Regions from separate parts of the Homo sapiens genome. Here region 2 is linked to region 1. A link means that fine-mapping ties the variant in region 1 to the expression of a gene that starts in the linked region. Tissue or cell type: whole blood. Region 1 holds a variant in brackets; the other region holds the start of a gene. All regions are shown on one strand. Distances are between the middles of the regions. Region 1 overlaps ZNF266 (zinc finger protein 266). Region 2 holds the start of ZNF266 (zinc finger protein 266).

What was found.
Region 2: ZNF266 starts here. The variant in region 1 is fine-mapped to the expression of ZNF266 in whole blood (INTERVAL, PIP above 0.99).

Annotation. Positions count from the first base shown.
Region 1 is chr19:9,412,021-9,422,699 of GRCh38, forward strand. ZNF266 (zinc finger protein 266) reads right to left here. Exons shown (of 11, transcript NM_001370374.1): 6 at 8,045-8,198; 7 at 7,197-7,279; 8 at 6,485-6,611; 9 at 5,808-5,888; 10 at 3,634-3,722; 11 at 409-2,700. The coding sequence starts at 8,069. The coding sequence ends at 1,255. Among named protein-coding and RNA genes, the nearest start is that of ZNF266, 18 kb to the right of the region's middle. The variant G/A (reference allele first, on the strand shown) is at 3,321.
Region 2 is chr19:9,430,396-9,441,074 of GRCh38, forward strand. ZNF266 (zinc finger protein 266) reads right to left here and starts at 5,178. Exons shown (of 11, transcript NM_001370374.1): 1 at 4,889-5,178; 2 at 4,713-4,798; 3 at 4,403-4,464; 4 at 3,680-3,840; 5 at 3,273-3,391. LOC105372269 (a long non-coding RNA gene) reads left to right here and starts at 5,246. Exons shown (of 3, transcript XR_007067133.1): 1 at 5,246-5,377. RefSeq lists an enhancer at 4,969-5,098.

The DNA of each region.
Region 1 (10,679 bases):
ACTTGCAGTCTAATTTTAGATATGTAAAATGAGCCTCGTGGAATTAGTAAAAGCTTTCCCACGTGCCTTACAGCAGAAGTGTTCTCTACACTGTGAATTTTTATTTCTCATGTAAGGTATAAACATTTAATGAAATCTCTCCACATTACTAATAATGGAGCCTCAGTCCACTCTAAGTCACTAAATGTTGGGTGAAGTCACATTTATGACTTTCATAGTAAAAGAAACTTTCTCTTCTTGATGGTCTTTGATTTTCACAGGGCCTATCACCACAAGAGTTGGAAGTGAGTATTAAGATCTGATGAGCACTTACAGACTTCTTCACATGTCCTACATTCATAGAACGTCTCTCCTGTGATTGCTTTTGTGTTTACACTAACACTAATGATAGCTAATGAACGGAAAAAATAATCACAAAAAAATTTTATTATGTTTGAAGAAAGCTTAAAAATTTGTGTTGGTCTGCATTCAAAGCCATCCTGGCCTGCGGGTTGGACAAGCTTGATCTAAAGCTTTTCCCAAGTTCCTCACAGTATTAGTTTCCTAGGGTTGCTGTACAAAATAACAGACTGAATGATTTAACCAAGAGAAATTTATTGCCTCACAGTTCTGGAGCCTGGAAGTGCAATATCAAGGTGGAGACAGGGTTGGTTTCCTCTGGAGGCCATAATGAAAGCATCTGTTCCAGGTCTCTGTCCTTGGCTTGTAGATGGCCATCTTCTGGTGGATCCACACAGTCTTCTCCATGTGTATCCTTCCTTCAGTTTCCCTTATAGGGACACCAGTGATGTCAGATTAGGGATCGAACCCAACAACCTCATTTGAAGTTACTCACCTGTTTGAAAACCCTATGTCCAAATACAGTTATAGTGTAAGGAACTAGGACTTAGGGCTTACAAATATGGAGTGGGGCATCATCCAGACCATACCATTTAAATTGCAGGGTTTCTCTCCAATGTGAGTTCACATACACACATTAAGGTTTGTGGGATTCAGAAAGGTATTCCCAGATTCTCTACATTCATACAGTTTCTCTCCAGTGAGATTTCTGATGTGTTTGGTAAGGCTTGAGAATTCAGCAAAGTCATTTCCACATTCCCTGATGCAGGGTCTTCTCCACTGTGAATTCATATGTGTTCATTAAGACCTGAGATACAAAGTTGCTTCCACATTTTTACATTCATAGGGTTTCTCCCCAGTGAGTTTTCATGTCTTCAGAGAGAACAGGGACACCTTTAGGTTTTCCCACATTCCTTATGCTGACAGTCTCTCATCCGCATGCCTTCTTTCATGATTTCGAAAGGAACTGGAAGAACTGAAGGCTTTCCCGCACTCCTTACATTCATAGGGTTTCTCTCCAGTGTGAGTTCGTTCATGTAACTGAAACGAATTGGAGTAACTGAAGGATTTCCCACACTGTTTACATTTGTAGGGTTTTTCTCCAGTGTGGATCCGCATGTGAAGGTTAACACACGTGGGAAACTTAAAAGCTTTGCCACATTCCATACACGTGAATGGTTTTTTGGCGCTGTGGGTCCGCATGTGATTATTAAGACTGGAGGAATGCGTAAATGCTTTACCACATTCCAGGCACTCAAAGGGCTTCTCTCCAGTGTGAATTCTCAAATGTCCACTAAGATTTGAAGAAATAGCAAAGGCTTTCCCACATTTGACACATTCAAAAGGCTTCTCTCCAGTGTGAGTTCTTGTATGTTCACTAAGGCGAGAGGATCTGGCAAAGGCCTTTCCACATTCCTTACATTCATAGGGCCTCTCTCCACTGTGAGTTCGTGCATGCTTAGTAAGGTCTGAGTTCTGAGTGAAGGCTTTCCCACAATCCTTACATTTATAGGGTTTTATTCCAGTGTGAATTCGAAAGTGATCACTGAGGCATGAGGAATTTCTAAAGGATTTTCCACATATCTTACATTCAAAGGGATCCTTTGCAGTGTGAGTTTTTAAATGTTCAGTAAGTTGAGAAGATCTAGTGAAGGCTATCCCACATTCCTTGCATTCATAAGGCTTCTCACCCACATGGATTTTCATATGTTGACTTAAGCAAGAGGAAACAGTGAAGGCTCTCCCACAATCCTTACATTTATAAGGTTTCTCTCCAGTGTGAGTTTTTCTGTGCTGAGTAAGTTGACAAGACCTGGTGAAGGCTTTCCCACACTCCTTACACTCATAGGGATTGTCTCCAGTGTGGGTTCCCATGTGAATATTAAGGTATGCAGAATATCTAAATCCTTTTCCACATTCCTTACATTTGTAGGGTTTTTCTGACCTGTGAGTTTGTATACGCACAGCAAGGTCTGTGGAGTGAATAAAGCCTCTCCCACATTCCTTCCATTCATGGAGACTTTCTCCATTGTGAGTTCTTAAATGTCCCTGAAGGTGTGAATGATTAATGAAGGATTTCCCAGAGTCACTGCAATCAAAAGCTTTCTCTCCTGTGCACGTTCTCTGGCAAACAACATCTGGGTTCAGGCTGAAGGCTTTTCCACACTGACTAAATACAGAACGTTGCTCTCCAGTAGAGGTTTTCTTGTGCAGAGTAAGGAAGTCTACTCCATACAGATAACACTCAAATGTGTTCTCACTATTTTGAGTTCTCACATGTGTCTTAAGGCATGAGTGTTCACTGGAGACATCTCCACATTGCTTAACATCACTGACCTCCCCTCCGTTGTGGCTTCCTATCTGTTGATAAAGGAATGAATGATGATTAAAGGACGGTTCAGATTGATTAACAGATTCCACTCATCTGAAGAGAGGAACACTGTGATGATTATTATCATGTTTACCATTTTCATTACACACATATAAGTAATGCCCTTTTGATTTCTTTCCAGCGGAATGACAAAAAACTCCTGCCAGGCTGTGCCATCTACTCTAATCTCAAATGTCTGTAGAGTTTTATGAAATTGTCTTAAAAACTCACTATCTAGTTACAAATGTGTACTTGAGGGGAACTCTAAAACACCTAAGTGTTGGCTGGGCGCAGTGGCTCACGCCTGTAATCCCAGTGCTTTGGGAGGCCAACGTGGGCAGATCACCTCAGGTCAAGAGTTCAAGACCAGTCTGGCCAACATGGTGAAACCCTGTCTCTACTAAAAGTACAAAAACTAGCCGGGCATGGTGGCACGTGCCTGTACTCCCAGCTACTCAGCAGGGTGAGGCACAAGAATCGCTTGAACCCAGGAGGTGGAGGTTGCAGTGAGCCAAGATCATGCCACTGCATTCCAGCCTGGGTGACAGACCAAGACTCTGTCTAAGAAAAAAACAACAATAAGTGTCAAGCTAGATTTCAAGCATCCCCA[G/A]GTCATCGTATTCTGAGTCTCTCTCCAGAGTCATTATCCCTTTTGGGAATGCTACTTATCTCAAAGAGCTCTCATTCTGCTAATTTTCTTTTTCTTTTAATGTAATTAAATTTAGTTTTTAGCGCCAAGATCTTGCTACGTTGACCAGGCTGGTCTAGAACTCCTGGCCTCAAGTGATCCTCCCACTTCAGCCTCCCAAAGTGCTGGGATTACAGGTGTGAGCCACCATTCCCAGCTTTATTCTGATTTTCTATAATGGAATCCCCAATCATCTCTAAATGTGAAAACTAAGACGTATCCTTGTTAATCTTACCATTTGAATCCCACTGGAGGTTGGCTCCCCCAAAACATCCTGCTGAAGGGCTAACTCTTTGGTTTTAAGTTGCACTTTCCATTCTGAAGCTGAAGAGAAAAAGAAATGTAAGGGTTTGGAGACATACAGGGTAGACAGATGGAGCTGAAAATGAGAGGGATCATTTGTACTTGTTTTCTTTTTTTCTTGAGACGGTGTCTCACTCTGTTGCCCAGGCTGGAGTGCAATGGCGTGGTCTCAGCTCACTGCAACCTCTGCCTCTCAGGTTCAAGTGATTCTCCTGCCTCAGCCTCCTGAGTAGCTGGGACTACAGGCACATGCCACAACGCCCAGCTAATTTTTGTATTTTTAGTAGAGACGAGATTTCACCATGTTGGCCAAGCTAGTCTCAAACTCCTGACCTCGTGATCCACACGCCTCAGCCCCTCAAAGTGCTGGGATTACAGGCATTAGCCACCACACCCGGCCCCTGTATTTGTTTTCAAATTAAACACGGTAACAAAAAACAAACACAAAGACAGATTTGAAGATTGTATATCAAAAATTTGGCAATAATAAGGATATAGCGTCAAAATTTTACATAGTTTACTACAAACTGATTCTATGAAAATTATAAACTGATGGTGAACACAAAGAATATTACCATGGAAGGAAAGTTGAGGAATAGAACAAAAAGCACACATCAAAACAAGGAGCTTGTTTTTGTTTTTTGTTTTTTTTTTTTTTTGAGAAAGACTTTCACTCTTGTCACTCAGGCTGGAGTGCAATAGAACAATCTCGGCTCACTGCAACTTCCGCCTCCCAAGTTCAAGCGATTCTCCTGCCTCAGCCTCCCGAGTAGCTGGGATTACAGGCACCTACCACCAAGCCCAGCTAATTTTTGCATTTTTAGTAGAGACAGGGTTTCAGCATGTTGGCCATGCTGGTCTCGAACTCCTGACATCAGGTGATCCTCCCACCTCGGCCTCCCAAAGTTCTGGGATTACAGACGTGAGCCACCGTGCCAGGCCTTTTTTTTTTTTTTTTTTTTTTTTTTGAGACAGAGTCTTGCTCTCTCACCCCAGCTGGAGTTCAGCGGCACGATCTTGGCTCATTGCAACCTTCGGCCCCTGGGTTCAAGCGATTCTCCTGCCTCAGCCTCCCTAGTAGCTGGGACTACAGGAGTGCGCCACCACGCCCAGCTAATAGTTGTATTTTTGTAGCGATGGGGTTTCACCATGTTGGCCAGGCTGGTCTCAAACTCATGACCTCATGTGATCTGCCCGCCTCAGCCTCCCAAAGTGCTGAGATTATAGGCGTGAGCCACCACACCTGGCCCAAAACAGGAACTTTTAAAGAAGAAACCAACGGGTCCTATCACAGAAAAGAATGAGTAGACAAAGCGTAAAAGTATGAGAAGTTGAAGATTTCTTAACTTCTGAGAAAGAAATGGCCTACCTGGGCATGGTGGCTCATGCCTGTAATCCCAGCACTTTGGGAGGCCAAGGCAGGTGGATCACTTGAAGTCAGGAGTTTGGGACCAGCGTGGCCAATGTGGTGAAACCCTCTCTCCACTAATAATACAAAAAATTAACCAGGCGTGGCACACACCTGTAGTCCCGGCTACTCGGGAGGACGAGTACTCAGGAGAATTACCTGAACCCGGGAGGCTGAAGTTGCAGTAAGCCGAGATCGCACCACTGCACTACAGCCTGGGTGACAGTGAAACTGTGTCTCAGAAAAAAATAAAAATAAAAAAAATAATGGCCTCAACACTGTGAGATGAAGCACATCTTAAAAAGTTTCCTCATTATGGCTAAGCGTGGTGGCTCACGCCTGTAATCCCAGCACTTTGGGAGGCCGAGGTGGGCAGATCATGAGATCAGGAGTTTGAGACCACACTGACCAACACGGTCAAACCCCGCCTCTACTAAAAATACAAAAATTAGCCAGGCATGGTGGCGTGAGCCTGTAATCCCAGCTACTCAGGGGGCTGAGGCAGGAGATCAGAAGGCTGAGGCAGGAGAATCGCTTGCACCTGCGAGGCGGAGGTTGCAGTGAGCTGAGACTGTGCCACGGCACTCCAGCCTGGGTGACAGAGTGAGACTCCATCTCAAAAAAAAAAAAAAGTTTCCTCATTATACTTATAAACATACTGAACTTATTGACCAGGGCGGTCCTTTGTGAACACTCACCTTGGAAATCACCTCTCTGCACTGTCCTAGACTCTTCTTGTTCCAGCCAAGAGATCAGACTGGGTTTGAAGAGCTGATATCCTGTGCACAAAGAAAGATACATTACCAGAAGAGGCTCATGCAAGAGATGATAAATCTTTCCACAACTCAGGAGATATAGTTCCAATGGAAGCAGTGAAATTATTTTAAAAGGGCTAAAAATGCAAATATCGTCTGTCTGTGCCCCCAAAAGATTGGTGATCTCTGATCCCTGAAGCCCAAATCCAGGCTGATGTACACACTTACAAAGCACTAAGACTTTTATCCAAATAGGAAGTTAAGTGAAACAAAGAGATCTTCATTCTCATGGGAAACAACTATACATCTCATTCTTCAACATTATAGCACATCAGATTCATGAGAGCTTGTTAAAACACAGATGACAGGGGCCCTGTTGCAGTTTCTCACTGAGTATGTCAAAGGTGGAGACTGAGAACATACATCTCCAACAGTGCTGGTGATGCTCTTCATCTGACACCACATTTTGAGAATCACCAAGTAGATGAAACCCTATTAGGGCAGGGACTATGTCTGTTATTTCCCATTGTGTTCAGAGTTGCTATCTCTGATGTGCAATACAGTAAGTACATAACATAATCTGTTCCATAGTAGGCTACAAGGGATGAGGCCAGTCTTACCTACTGTGGCCAAATTCTTGTAGTTCTCCAGCATCACATCTCTGTAGAGGTTTCTCTGAGTTGGGTCCAGTAAAGTCCATTCTTCTGGGGTGAAGTCCACAGCCAGATCATCAAAAGTCACTGAATCCTAAACCATCACACACATGCTGGCTTGAGCCACAAAACATGTCTACCAGTGTTCACTGCAAAATGCAATACCTACAGAGTCTGAGGGCTCACATTGCCCACCCCAGGAGGTCCTCTCTATCCACACTCACTCACTGTCAGTCCCCTCCAGTGACACGGCTTGAATGGCACTTCTTACACATGATTGTATGTAACACAACCAGACTGGGAGGTCATCTGATTTCCCTCCACTGCAGCACACTCTTGAGCAGATGCTAGATAAACACTGATGAATGGAAAGATTATCTCAAAGGATACTTTCATGTCCCTTACCATGTGTCAGAACACTCAACAAAATAAAAACTATGCAGTTGGGACCATGAGGGAAGACTAATTAATCAATATTGAAATACTGGGATGACATTCAAGGCAAACCCTCACCAATATGACAGGCTCCACTCCTTCCGGGAATTCGACTAGGGACTCAGTCCTTGAAGGAGGCTTTATTTGCTTTAAGAAGCTCTGAAGATAATTCTGTGTAGAAGGAAATGTGTCTACCTGGTGATGCAAGTATGATATTTTGGAGAAGGATATACTTCCTGCATACCTGATAACAATTTGTCAGACAGTCAGCCACCACCCTTTCTACTTCTGTCTTTTCTTGAAGGCAGACTGGGTCCCTGTAAAGACCTCATGGAAAAGAAAGAAGGCATGAGAACCCAGGGCTGACGATAATTCCCACATTCACGTACCCCAAAGTCATTCCATCCTACTGTGAGATTCCTATATACTCCCGCACACTCAAGAAAACACACACATACACACCACCGCTATCAATTCCAGGGCACTACTGCCTCACGTAAAGGCAAAAAAAAGGATAGTCAGCCATGCTGCCCACTGGGAAAAGGGTAACAGTCTTATTTTACAGATAAGGAAAACTTCTCTTCCCTGGAAAGACACAGCACCTCTTCCCAAAGCACACACAGCAGGGGGCTGATGAAGTATTCTGGCTGGGCGTGATGGCTCACACCTGTAATCCTAGCACTTTGGGAGGTCGAGGCAGGCAGATCACTTGAGGTTAGGAGTTCGAGACCATCCTGGCCAACATGGTGAAACTCCATCTCTACTAAAATTACAAAAAATTAGCCAGGTGTGGTGGCACACGCCTGTAATCCCAGCTACTCGGGAGGCTGAGGCAGGAAAATCGCTTGAACCTGGGGGGCAGAGGTGGCAATGAGCTGAGATCATGCCACTGCACTCCAGCCTGAGCAACAGAGCAAGACTCTGTCTCAAAAAAAAAAAAAAAAAAAGGAACAAAGCATTCCCTAGCCCACATCAGCACCTCAGAAATGAAGCTGCAGCGTGAATGATCAGGCACAGGCCACTGGACTCCATACTGTGTGGGGGGGGACACCTAAAGCAGGGTATCTGAAAATGAACAGAAACAGGACTTACCATAGGACAAATCAGTGGCTGCCATCCCACAGGGCTGATGGCTGAATGTGCTTCAAAGCACCTTTCCTTTACTCCAAGGATCACTCCAGGACAGCTTAGGAATCTACACGGACAGAGGTAACCTCCATTCTCTTTATCCAGGGTTAACGGTATCCTGTTTGTATAAATCATTAATCAACAAGCATTACTTATCAGTCATCAGACATCATTAGCACTCTCTCTGCAGAGCATATAGAGGAAAAGACACTGAAAACGGTGTACACTACAAATAGTAGGAAGACCAACTTCCACTACTGAGGAACAGTGTGTGTCAGAAGTCACACTAGCAGCTTTATATACTCGCTTAATTATCATAACCACCCTTTACAGTAGATACCAATGACCCCTATTTGATAAAGAAAAAATCAGGCCGGGGGCGGTGGCTCACGCCTGTAATCCCAGCACTTTGGGAAACCAAGGCAGGTGTGTCAGTTGAGGTCAGGAGTTCAAGACCAGCCTGGGCAATGTGGTGAAACCCCATCTCTACTGAAAACACAAAAATTAGCTGGGCATGGTAGTGCATGCCTATAAATCCCAGCTACTGAGGAGGCTGAGGCAGGAGAATCGCTTGAACCTGAGAGACAGAGGTTGCAGTGAGCCGAGATCACACCACGGCACTCCAGCCTGGCAACAGAGTGAAACTCTCTCTCAAAAGGAAAAAAAAAAAAAGAAAAAGAAAAAAAAGAAAACCTACAATCAGACAACACTTGGATTTGGTCCAGAATCATCCAGTTTGGAAGTTGTGAACCAGGACTTGAACACAGGCAATTTTGTCCCTGACACCCAATCTGTGGCTGCTCTTACTTTCCCACATGACCAGCGTTAGTCTAAACCTGCACAGTACAACACCATGGTCACTACCCACATGTGTTATTGAACACCCACTCCATATAAACCGAGTATGACCCAACAACAGAATGTATTTTAATTTAATAAAATTTATACAATTAAAATAAAATTTAATAAAAATTAATCACAATCTTTAATAAATCAAACACAGAACAACAGTGCAAATGCTGATTGACAGAATGGAATCTGAACGATGAAAATCACTGAAAACTGAACAGTTCATTATCCATGAACCAGATACACCCCCACAAGGACGCTACAGCCTTTATTCTATGAATGAGAAGGCTGAAACTCTGAGGTCACACTGGGTTACAGAAACCCCATGTCTAGACTCCTGGTGTAGATTGTACCCACTACCATGGGTTTCAAACTGGGGATCCTTAGGCTGAAGAGGGCCACAAATGTGTTTAATTTGGTGAAATCTAAACCAATTATGTTATTTTAAACTTGAAATGTAATTAATGTACAATTAAAAGTACAGATCTTAGGTATTCAGTGGATGAATTTTGACAATCGCATACACTTGCATAATCAAAAGCCTAAACAAGATATAAAACATGTTCGTCTCCCCATGAAAACCTTCTTGCCCCTTCCAGTCTATCTTTTCACTCTCAACTCCAGATAAGCACCCTGTGATTTCCTTCATTTAGCAGACACAACACTGGACAGGTAAATTAGGCAGTGTGCTCATCTCTCGCAAATGTACATCCTATCTTCATTTTTCTCTACTATTTAAATAACATGAGATAAAAATTCTAAAATCTCCCACTGCAACTGTGGACTTGTCTATTTCTTCTTGTGTATCTGTAATGTATACTCCTTTATACATCTTGTAACAACATTACTGGGTAGATAGATACACACATTGAACTTTCCTATTTTTGGAGCAACAAAACCTTTCTTTTTTTTTTTCTTTTGAGACGGAGGCTCGCTCTGTCACCCAGGCTGGAGTGCAGTGGCGCGATCTCGGCTCACTGCAAGCTCCGCCTCCAGGTTCACGCCATTCTCCTGCCTCAGCCTCCCGAGTAGCTGGGACTATAGGCACCCGCCACCACACCCGGCTAATTTTTTTGTATTTTTAGTAGACACGGGGTTTCACCCTGTCAGCCAGGATGGTCTCGATCTCCTGACTTTGTGATCTGCCCGCCTCGGCCTCCCAAAGTGCTGGATTACAGGCGTGAGCCACTGCACCTGGCCACAACAAAACCTTTTTTTTATCATAAGGAACTCTGCGAGTCTCTAGGAATGTTCTTGGATGATGCTGGGTGACACTGCAACTTGCTTTTCTTTGTGGAGTCTCTGTATCTCATGGGCAGCCTTAGGTATCTTTGGGTGCCAATGTTCCCCTTGACCTGGCATGGAGCCTAAAGGCACCCAGTGATGGCTGGACAGACAACTGAGATCCTTCTCAACACTGTTAAAGTACACCCAGACTACAGCCCCATCACAATTCATAACACAATATGCATCTGAGTTCTGAGGAAATGCATTGAACTACTCAAAGAATGCAAGGGTGACAGGAATACTGTCTCTTTCTATGCACTTAGCCACCACCCATGGCCTGTCTGCATACCAAAGACTGGTTTCCCCTGGCCACTTAATGTGGATATTTAGTGCTCTCAGTCTTGTATCCTTACTGGCACCCCAACTTCCTCTGCTCATGAGCACAATAGCCAGGGTTGCCTGCATTCCAGAGGGCTGCTTCCTGCTTTCCCCGAGTCCAATGACTAGCTCTAGTACCCGCTAA
Region 2 (10,679 bases), 18 kb after region 1:
TCTCTCCCATCGTTGATCGTCCCGCAACACTACTACCCTTCTCACTTTCTATCTTGACCTCCAGCCTTGCCTATCCAACCACACCACTCTTGCCCCTTGGTTACACACAATACCACTAACCTTTACATATGCTTTACTAAATCATCAGCTCATACCCTCCAACATAACTGCCCTACATCTATTTTTAGGCCTGACATAAGTTATTTGGAACCCAGTCAGACCCCATCACCTTTGGCTTACTTAAAACTTTCCCCTCCCTGTGTGCTGTTTGTGACATAGCCTACTTGTTCCTCACCTCACTGACCCCAAACCCAACACACCCCACAGCTGCTGACCATAATGAAACCTACTGGCCAACATCAGTCATGTAAATCAGTTCTCCCCACTGCTCAGGTCTACCTAATCCACAACCACGCTGGGAAAGCCTGAGGGATAAGGCCCATGGACCGTAACAAAGGCACAGTCCCACAGGTCCTCTCTGTCTCATTCCCCACCCACTGGTTAGCACCCGGCTGTCTCCTGAGTTGCTGTCAGGACCTCAAGGGCAACCCTCTTCTCGCGGATCTGTAAGGAATAAAATGCTTCTGCTACTTGATGTGTTTTGTTGTGTTGCCTTTTCTGTACCTAACCCACCCAACACACCAGAACACCTCTCCTCTTGGTCGGGACAGAGCTAGAATTTACAGCCACTCTCCAGAGACAGAAGCCTCAGGACCTAATTAGAGGAACATACTAAAAGGGGACATGGGATGGACACTGCAAAAGGGAGCGTTGCCTGCTGGATACAATTGCGACACGGTGGTCAGCAGTGTGGGTGTGAGGGCATTGGAGGGTGCTCTGTCCACGCCATATGCCCATAACACAGTCCTTAGGATACCACAAAACCCTGGCCCAGTCACCACCACCCTGTGGCCCTCCTAATATGGACGCCACATGCTCAAAGGACTCCCACTAGCAGAGGCACCCTCTGCACATGTGCCGACTGGCTTGATGGCTTGTGTCCCTCATGACACAGACAATGCGCATGCCAGGATGCATGCTGCTGCATGACCTGTACCCCAAAGGTTTGTTCCCAAAGGCCTCCGAACGTGAACACTGAAGTCCCAGGCCTTGCAAACAAAGTGGCATCCAAATTTCCTGTGCATAGCTGCCCATCACCATCAGTGTGAGTGTGCCCCAGAGGTGTGTTTGTCACAGCACTTCCAGGGCAGACACGAACCAGTCCAAGCCTCATAGCTACAGTGGTGTCCTGACTCCCCCTACAGGCTGATCCACCCATTGCAGCTGGCCTTTGCCTTGAAACACTGCTTCAATCTTCCCTAAGGACTATGACTAACTCCCGCCTGAGTAACCCAGCAAACTTCACCATCCAGTGGGCTACAGCCACACTGTGGCCAAATACTGTAATATGACCCCAGAGATCCCCACCTGCTGGCATTCATACCCCTGGATAACACCCTCCTGTTGAGCGCACGCACGACCTTTGACCAGTTTCTAACAGAAGAATAAGCAAAAATGAAGAGAATGCAGATGTAATTGAGGTCTCAAGTCAGTTGGGTTTTGTTTTGTTTTGTTTTTAGACAGGGTCTCACTCTGGTTGCCCAGGATGGAGTGCAGTAGCGCAATCTCAGCTCACTGCAGCCTTCACCTCCCTGGTTCAAGTGATTCTCCTGCCTCAGTCTCTCAAGTGGCTGGGATTACAGGCACCCACCACCATGCCCGGCTAATTTTTGTATTTTTTTTAATAGAGTCAGGGTTTCACCATGTTGGCCAGGCTGGCCTTCAACTCCTGACCTGAAGTGATCCACCCACCTTGGCCTCCCAAAGTGTTGGGATTACAGGCGTGAGCCACTGCACCTGGCTTACTTTTATCTTGATACACATAGTGTATACATTACTGTTGCTGTAGGGCATGTATGTGTATAAACCTAGTATGTACTGCCAACAGTTTTTGAAATTGGTTTGCCAATACACTCTCCAAAAAGCAGTATATGCACATCCTCAGCAACTTTATATCAGAATCCCCATCAATGATTTCACTACATGCGGCTAGTTCACTGGAACCCCTAAGTGCCAAACAGAGAAAATGTATAGAATTTAAGTCTTCACTTAAAGTCATCAGCAGGTTCTTGGAAACTGAGACTTTAAGCGAAATGACATACAACAAAGCGAATTTTTTCACATGCTAATTAATATAAGCGAGTTAAGCTCCTACAGCATATTTCTGGTCACAAAAACATCACTAAACTTCTAAATAAAGACCCCAAACACTTCTAATATTAAATATTGAAATAAATGTGAAATATATATACATTTAAGAAAGACTAATAAAAATAGGCTATTTATCCAATTTTTGATGAATTGGTATGTGATGGCAGTTAACAGTGGTGGGTTAAAACAAATAAATGCTTCCAAAGCAAAAACTCTAAGGACCACCTCCTACCACCAAGAAGCTCAAAAACAATAACAAATGGGGCCAGCTTGCTAAGTGGTACCATTTACTGTTGTACAGTTGTATCATTATCAAATGTTTTAGGAATTTTTATTTTACAATAGTTTGTATTCATTCATTCATTCTCCAATCCACCTATTCCAGTTCCAGAATGAAAATGGCCAGAGCCCATCCTAACAGCTCAGGGCACACACACACATAGTGGGACAATTTAGACACACCAATTAAGCTAACATGTGCATCTTTGGCATGTGGGAAGAAACCAGAGTACCCAGAGAAAACCCATGCAGACATGGGAAGAACGTGCAGAATCTACAGAGTGGCCCTACTGGAATTTGATTTTTTTTCCGTCATCGATGTTATAATTAACAGACATTATTCTAAGATCTGTTGTATTTCCAGGCCATGTGGCCCCTTCACAGCTTTTTGGCAGCCCACATTGGCAGGTGAGTTTTCTGGTCATTTACTTACATGGATTGTATCAAGCCAACCCCCTAGGTGTATGAGTGTCTATAAGGAGTCACGCAGAGTGCTTACTCTGGACATTCCTTCAGGGAAACGAAGGACTAATTTAGGTAGGAGAAGGAACCCAAAAGTGAATTGAAAAAAACAACGAGAGAAGTTTTGTCTGTTTATGAATATACATATTTCCTAAGACTAATAATTAACATCAGTGAATTTTCATGGAGAGCTTATTTTTCAGTGATCAAGCACTGATTCTCATTAATCCCTTGAATTAATTTCTTATTCATGTAATTAAAACACATTCATGCTTCTCCTATTTTCCCTTGATTTACATCATTTGTCAGATATCACTTACTTTGGCCAGGCACAGTGGCTTATACCTGTAATCCCAGCATTTTGGGAGGCCGAGGTGGGTGGATCACTTGAGGTCAGGAGTCTGAGACCAGACTGGCCAACATGCTGAAACCATCTCTACTAAAAAAAAAAAAAATACAAAAATACAAAAATTAGCCAGGCATGGTGGCGCACACTTGTAATCCCAGCTACTAGGGTGGCTGAGGCAGGAGGATGGCTTGAAAACCCAAGAGGTGGAGGTTACAGTGTTTCAGTGAGCCGAGATCCTGCCACTGCACTGGAGCCTGGCAACAGCGAAACTCTGTCTCCCAAAAGATATCACTTACTATTTCCTGTCATACATTTAAGATTAAATTATCCCACCACATTGTTTCCCCAACCAAAGAAAGAATACTGACTCTGTCAAACCTGGGAGTAATCTTTGATGCACTCCTCTCTCTCACCATAGAAGTGGAGTCAGCCAATTCACAGAATGCTTTGCCCAGCTCTTATTTCCTTCCCCTTCAGTATGGCTAAATCATACCATATTTTTGGTCTCAGCTTGCATATCACTCTTTTCTTAGCATTGCCTATTCCAAAGAAAAATAGAGAAAATAATTCTGTCCTCTACTTTACTTACAGACCTTCATCAATTTGTAATACACTTATTTGCTTGGTTACATGACAGCCTCCTCCACTAGTTTACAACCTCCCTAAGAACAGCCCTAGGCTGAATTTTTTTACTATGCCTTAATTAACCATTCAGACACTCATCCATTTACAGGATACACCAATAAATGAAGGATACATTTAAACACGGCACAGAATACAATCAGAACTACCAAAATGTATAACTTTCTGAAAGAACGAGTGACTGCGCAAAAAGACAATATAACGGATAAACAGTGTCTGCTAGTTTTAAAGAGACTAAAAGACATGAAACTTGGATACGTAATAGATCCCAAAACAATCAAAACCATATATTGGAACAAAGTGGAGAACTGTACCTTTTTACACAGGGTACATATTAACAACATTTTAAATTTTCTGGGGTAATAGTATTATGGTTTTAAAAGGACATGTCTTTATCCACAGGACACGTATTACCAAGCATTTAAACCTTAAGTGTCACGCCTGCAATGTTCAACTTACTTCAAAGCCTCCATTCCTTCTTCCTAAAAGCCCGTTTTGAAGCTCTGTGGGGAGGTACAGGCCTAGGAAGTTCAGATAAAAAGAATAGCTGAGTATTCTTGCTTTTCTTCAGTAGAAAGACTTCTGGTCTACAAACGTTTATATTCACATAGAGAAATAACCACACCCCAGATACCTAAAAAATAGCTTTATGTTTCTACCTGAATGTAGAGTGTCAAAAGTAAATACAGGATGCGCAAAGAGAAAAACAAATTCTCAGATAAAACAGGAGGAAGAAGCCCCCGAAACCAACTTTCACCCCAGTACTCACCGCGACGAGCTGGACTCGCCAGGTACGGGAGATTGGGGGGATGAAGGACCAGTCAACCTGATTCGAACGACGAAAACTCGTTGTTTCTGGAAAAAAAAAAGTCACAAAGAATTGCTTTGGAAGAGTTTGAAGCGGCAATCACCGTGTTTGCAAAAATCGTGAGGAAGCGCCCTTACGACAGATCCCGAAACGGCTCCTGGCCCAGGGCCGTCGCAGTGACAACTCGAGTGGCTTTTTGAACCTGGCGGCGCCAGGAGGACCCGCGCGGCCCCGGCGGACGCGAGCGGAGCAGGCAAGGTCTCTCTAAGGAGGCCCCTCGGCGGCCTGGGGCAAACCGGTACTTTCGCCACCCCTTCCACCGCTGGCTCCCACCCGTCATCCGACCTCGCCAAAGCTGTATTAAGCCCAAACGCCACCAGGAAGAAAACGGGTTTGGCGGCGCGGAGAAAGCGCCGGAAAACACAGCAGCGCTCCGTGACGTCACTTCCGCCTCCAGCCTCAAACCTGGAGGAGCGCTCGGGAACTGCAACCTCAGCCGAGCTGAACAACCTCAGGCAGAGAGATTCTGGTTTACTCCCCAGTGGCTACGGAGACGCCTTGGAGGCCTTGGAGTCTGCTCACCTTGAGGGATGGAGGCCAAAAGGGGCCCAGAGCACAAGGCTGAGGTTAGAACCAGCCCTGCGGACGGGGCTAACCTAGGGTGGGGTCGGTGGTGTTGGCAAAGTTAGAGGTGGGGGCTCCCCCACAGGATGTGCACAATGCTCACAAAAAGCTTTTATTCTCACCTCCTCCCACGTTCCTAGCACCCTCAAAATGATGCTTCCTTTGATAATCCTGCCAGTCCATGATATGGCCTATCTCCTCCATTCATTCAATCTAGTTTTAGTTTTTTATTTTGTTTTTGTTTGAGACAGGGTCTCACTGTGTAGTCCAGGCTGGCGTGCTGTGGGGCGAAACTCATGGGCTCACGCCATCATCCCGCCTCAGCCTCCCGAGTAGCTGGGTCTACAGGCGCAGGCCACCATGCCCGGCTAATTTTTTTTCCCCCAGAGTTGAGGTATGTTACCCAGGCTGATCTCAAACTCCTGGGCTCCAACAATCATCCCGCCTCAGCCTCCCAAAAGGCTGGGATTACAGGCGTGCACCACGGCGCCGGGCCCAATTCAACTTGAGGCCAATATTTCCCCTTATTTCATTTATCTGGACGCCATGCTAAATTCTAATAGTTGATTCCTTTGTGTATTCAATATGCTGATACTTTTTGTAAATGTTGATTTTTTTTTCTTTGACTAATATATTGTTTTCTGAGATCTTACAGTGAGTTCCAGGGCCTCGTTGTAAAATACCGCGTTGTAAAATAGCACTGATATCAGGCATTCACTTCTGCAGGAGTGATTCTAGTTTCTCCAGAAATCGTTTTTGCTGTGCTTTGTAGTGGGTGGCCTTTATGGAGTTAATAAAGTTATTTTGAACACTGTTTTACTAACATGAAGAACTGTTCATGTACATTATCAAATATTTTGTGAATCTACTGAACTGGTAACTATTTTGCAGTTAATTTTTCAACTCAAAAAGATTTTCTTTTTTAAGTTTCCTCTCTTGCATTAAGAAGTCTTCATAAACTCTAGATTACATATAGATTTCCTAATTTTCTTCTGCAGCATATTACTTTAAAAACATTGAAATCTTTCATACTCATGGAATGTGTTTCAGTATGTGGTGTGGGATAGTGGATACAATATCTCTTTCCTCCAGAAACACGGCCAATTATTGTAGTACCACATATTGATAAACTGTCCTTGATTTACTGATTTCAAATTCCATGTTTATTAAACTATAAATTCCTATGTATACCTGTATCTGATTCTAGACTCTATGCCAGTAATACATTTACTTATGCCAATATCAAGATCATAATCTTTTCATTCCAGTGGTTTTGTATCAACTAATAATATTCCGTGGTAATAATAATAATAATGGTAGCTTTTTTGTTTGTTTGTTTTTGAGACAGTCTTGCTCTGTCACCCAGGCTGGAATACAGTGGTACGATCTCGGCTCACTGCAACCTCCACCTCCTGAGTTCTAGGGATTCTCCTTTCTCAGTCTCCTGAGTAGCTGGGATTATAGGCACGCGCCACCACGCTCAGCTAATTTTTGTATTTTTTTTTTTTTTTTTTTTTAGTAGAGATGGGGTTTCGCCATGTTGGCCAGGGTGGTCTCAAACTCCTAACCTCAGGTGATCTGCCCACCTCAGCCTCTGAAAGTGCTGGTGTGAGCCACCGCACCTGGCGGTAGCTGTTTTTTAAATCTTACTACCCTAAATGCTTAATAGACATTAAATTTTTACGCTCCCAATGATGTGGCTATTATTGTGATTTTTCCCTTTTGGTTTTTAGACCAGCTGTATTGAGATACAATTCACATATAACCAACACAGTTCACCCACTTAAAGCTATATAATTCAATATTTTTTAGTACATTCGCAGTGTTGTTCAAACATAATTTTGGAACATTTTAATCACACTAAAAGAAATCTTTGAATGGGAAAACCCATTTACCTCCTCTTTAAGCTCCAGGGAACCACAAACCTACTTTATCACTACAGATTTTTCTTTTGTAGACATTTCATATGGATATACTCATACAATTTATTTTTATTTTTGTATAGACAGGGTCTCACTATGTTGCAAGGCTGATCTCGAACTCCTGGGCTTAAGTAGTCCTGCCTCGGCCTCCAAAAGTGCTGGGATTATAGGCGTGAGCCACCATGCCCGGCCTAAAAATCATACAATCTTTTGTGAATAACTTTTTTCACTTAGCCCGTTTTTCAAGGTTCATCTGTATTATAGCCTAGATCATTCTATTTTATTGCTGAATGATATTCCATTCTATGTATATACCATATATGATTTGTCTTCAGTTGATGGACATATGGTTTGTTTCCACTTTGGGGGTGTTGTGATTAATGCTGCTATGAAAATTCACATATATCTTTTTGTGCATACTGGCTTTTATTTTTTGAGAAATCACAGCTCACTGCAGCCTCTACCTCCTAGGCTCAAGCGATCCTCCCACCTCAGCCTCCTGAGCAACTAGGACCACAGGCATAAGCCACCACACCCAGCTAATTTTTGTATTTTTTTGTAGAGACAGGGTTTTGCCCAGGCTGGTCTCAAACTCCTAAGCTCAAGCAACCTGCCCGCCTCGGCCTCCACAAAGGCATAAGCCACCACGCTCAGCTGGTTTTTATTTCTCTAGAGTATATATCTGGGAATGGAATTGCTGAGCCATACAGTAACTATCTAAGAATTTGAAGAACTGCCACACTGTTTTTGAAAGGGGCTGTACTGTTTTACATTCCCACCAGAAATGTATGAGGGCTCCAACTTCTCTACGTCCCTGCTAACACTTTAGTGTTTTTCATGTTAACTGTGTTAGTGGTGTGAGGTGATACCTCATGATTTTGACTTGTATTTCCCTAACACTAGTGATGTTCAGCATCATTTAATGTGCTTTGTTAGCCATTTGTATGCTTCTTTGGAGAAATTTCTGTTCAATTCCTTTGCCCCTTTTAAAATTTGTTTTCTGGCTGGGCACGGTGGCTTGTAATCCCAGCAATTTGGGAGGCTGAGACAGACAGATCACTTGAGGCCAGGAGTTCAAGACCAGCCTGGCCAACATCGTAAAAGATAAAAAATCAGCCAGGCGTGATAGCACACACCTGTAATCCCAGCTACTCGGGAGGCTGAGGCAGGAGAATCGCTTGAACCCGGGAGGAAGAGGTTGCAGTCAGCCAAGATTATGCCACCGCACTCCAGCCTGGGTGATAAAGTGAGACTCTGTTTCGAAAAAAAAAAAAAAAAAGGTCCGGGTGCAGTGGCTCACGCCTGTAATCCCAGCACTTTGGGAGGCCAAGGCAGGCAGATCACCTCAGGTTGGGAGTTCAAGACCACCCTGACCAACATGGAGAAACCCTGTCTCTACTAAAAATACAAAAAAGTAGCCAGGCATGGTGGCACATGCCTGTAATTTCAACTATTCAGGAGGCCAAGGCAGGAGAATCGCTTGAACCCAGGAGGCGGAGCTTGCGGTGAGCTGAGATGGTGCCATTGCAATCCAGCCTGGGCAACAAGAGCGAAACTCTCTATCTTAAAAAAAAAAATTCCATTGAGTTGCAAGAGTTCTTTATATATTCTGAAGAGAGGTCCTTATCATATATATGATTTACAAATATTTTCTCTCAATAGGTTTTCCTTCTCTTTCTTGATGGAATATTTTAGAATACTAAACTATATAATATTGATGAGTGTCCTCTGAAGTACAAGTTTAATGTTGATAATTTTTTGTTTGCAATGTTTTTGATACTGCACCTAAGAAAACAGTACTAAATCCAGTATCATGAAACTTTTCTGCCTATACTTCTGGGAATTATTGTAGGTCTTACATGTATGTTTAGGTCTTTGATCCATTGTCAGCTAACTTTTGTGGGGTTTTTAAATATTTTAATTTTTTTAGCTTAATCCCCAATGTGGTATCTGTTAACTTTTGTATGTGGTATAAAGTAAAAGCCCAAATGCATTCTTTTGCAGTATGGTATCAATTTCTCCCAGAACCATTTGTTGAAAACATTCTTTTCATTCTTCATTGAATTACCCTGGCAGCCTTGTAGATCTGTTGACCATATATGTGAGGGCTTACTTCTGGACTCTCAATTCTATTCCATTAATTTGTATGTTTATCCTTAAGCCAGTGCCACATTGTTTTGATTACTACAATTTTGTAGCACTTTATGAAATCCAAAAGTGTGACTCCTTCAACTGTGTTCCTCTTTTTCAAGACTGTTTGGCTATTTGGTGTTCTTTCCATTTCTATATAAAGTTTATGATGAGCCTGTCAATTTCTGCTATGAAGCCAGTGCTAAATTAAAAAAAAAAATAACATCAGTGGAACTTGTTAAAGCATAGTAAGGCAGACTTTATTCAGTACCATCACGTTAGGTATAGGGACCACTGCAGTAGGATTTTGCAGTGGAGGTGACAGAGTAGGCTAACTCTGAATAATTATAGCATGAGCAAATGGGAATTTATAGTCAAGTTAAAGAGTAAAGGTCAGTGAGTGGAAAATTGCCAAGAGGAATATCAGGGGTATGGAGGATGGTGGATAAACTGACCTAACATGATGTCTGATCACTTTGGCCTGTAATTGGTAGATAGTAGAGAATCGGGAACCTGATCAGCTATAAGGGTGATCTGATACTGAGGGTGGTAGGTTCTTATTGTACTGACTTAGCAGGGTTCTTGCTAAAACTCAATATACAAAAGTGTACACATGGGCCTAAGAAAAGTTTAAGGAGCTTGACTATAGTTGAGTAAAGCAAAGACTCTGTCACCATCTGGAATTTTGATAGGGATTATGTTTAATCTATAGACCAACTTGGAGAGTACTGCCATCTTAAAAATAATGTTCAGTATTCTTGGTCAGGTGTGGTGGTTCATGACTACAATCCCAGCACTTTGAGAAGCCGAGATGGGCAGATCACTTGAGGTCAGGAGTTCGAGACCAGCCTAGCCAACATGGTGAAACCCCATATCTACTAAAAATACAAAAATTAGTTGGGCATGGTGGCACATGCCTGTAATCCCAGCTACTCGGGAGACTGAGGCAGGAGAACTGCTTGAACCCAGAGGCAGAGGTTACAGTAAGCCGAGATTGCACCAGTGCATTCCAGCTTGGGCAACAGAGTAAGACTCCCTCTCAAAAATAATAAGTATTCTAATCCATCAACATGGGGTGACTTTCCATTACTTTTCATCTTTATCAACATTTTGTGGTATTCAGTATGGAAGTCTCGCACATCTTTTATCAGATTTATTCCCAAGTAGTTTATTATTTTAATACTATAATAAATGGAATTGTTTTCTTTTCTTTTCTTTTCTTTTCTTTTTTTTTTTTTTTTTTGGAGATGAA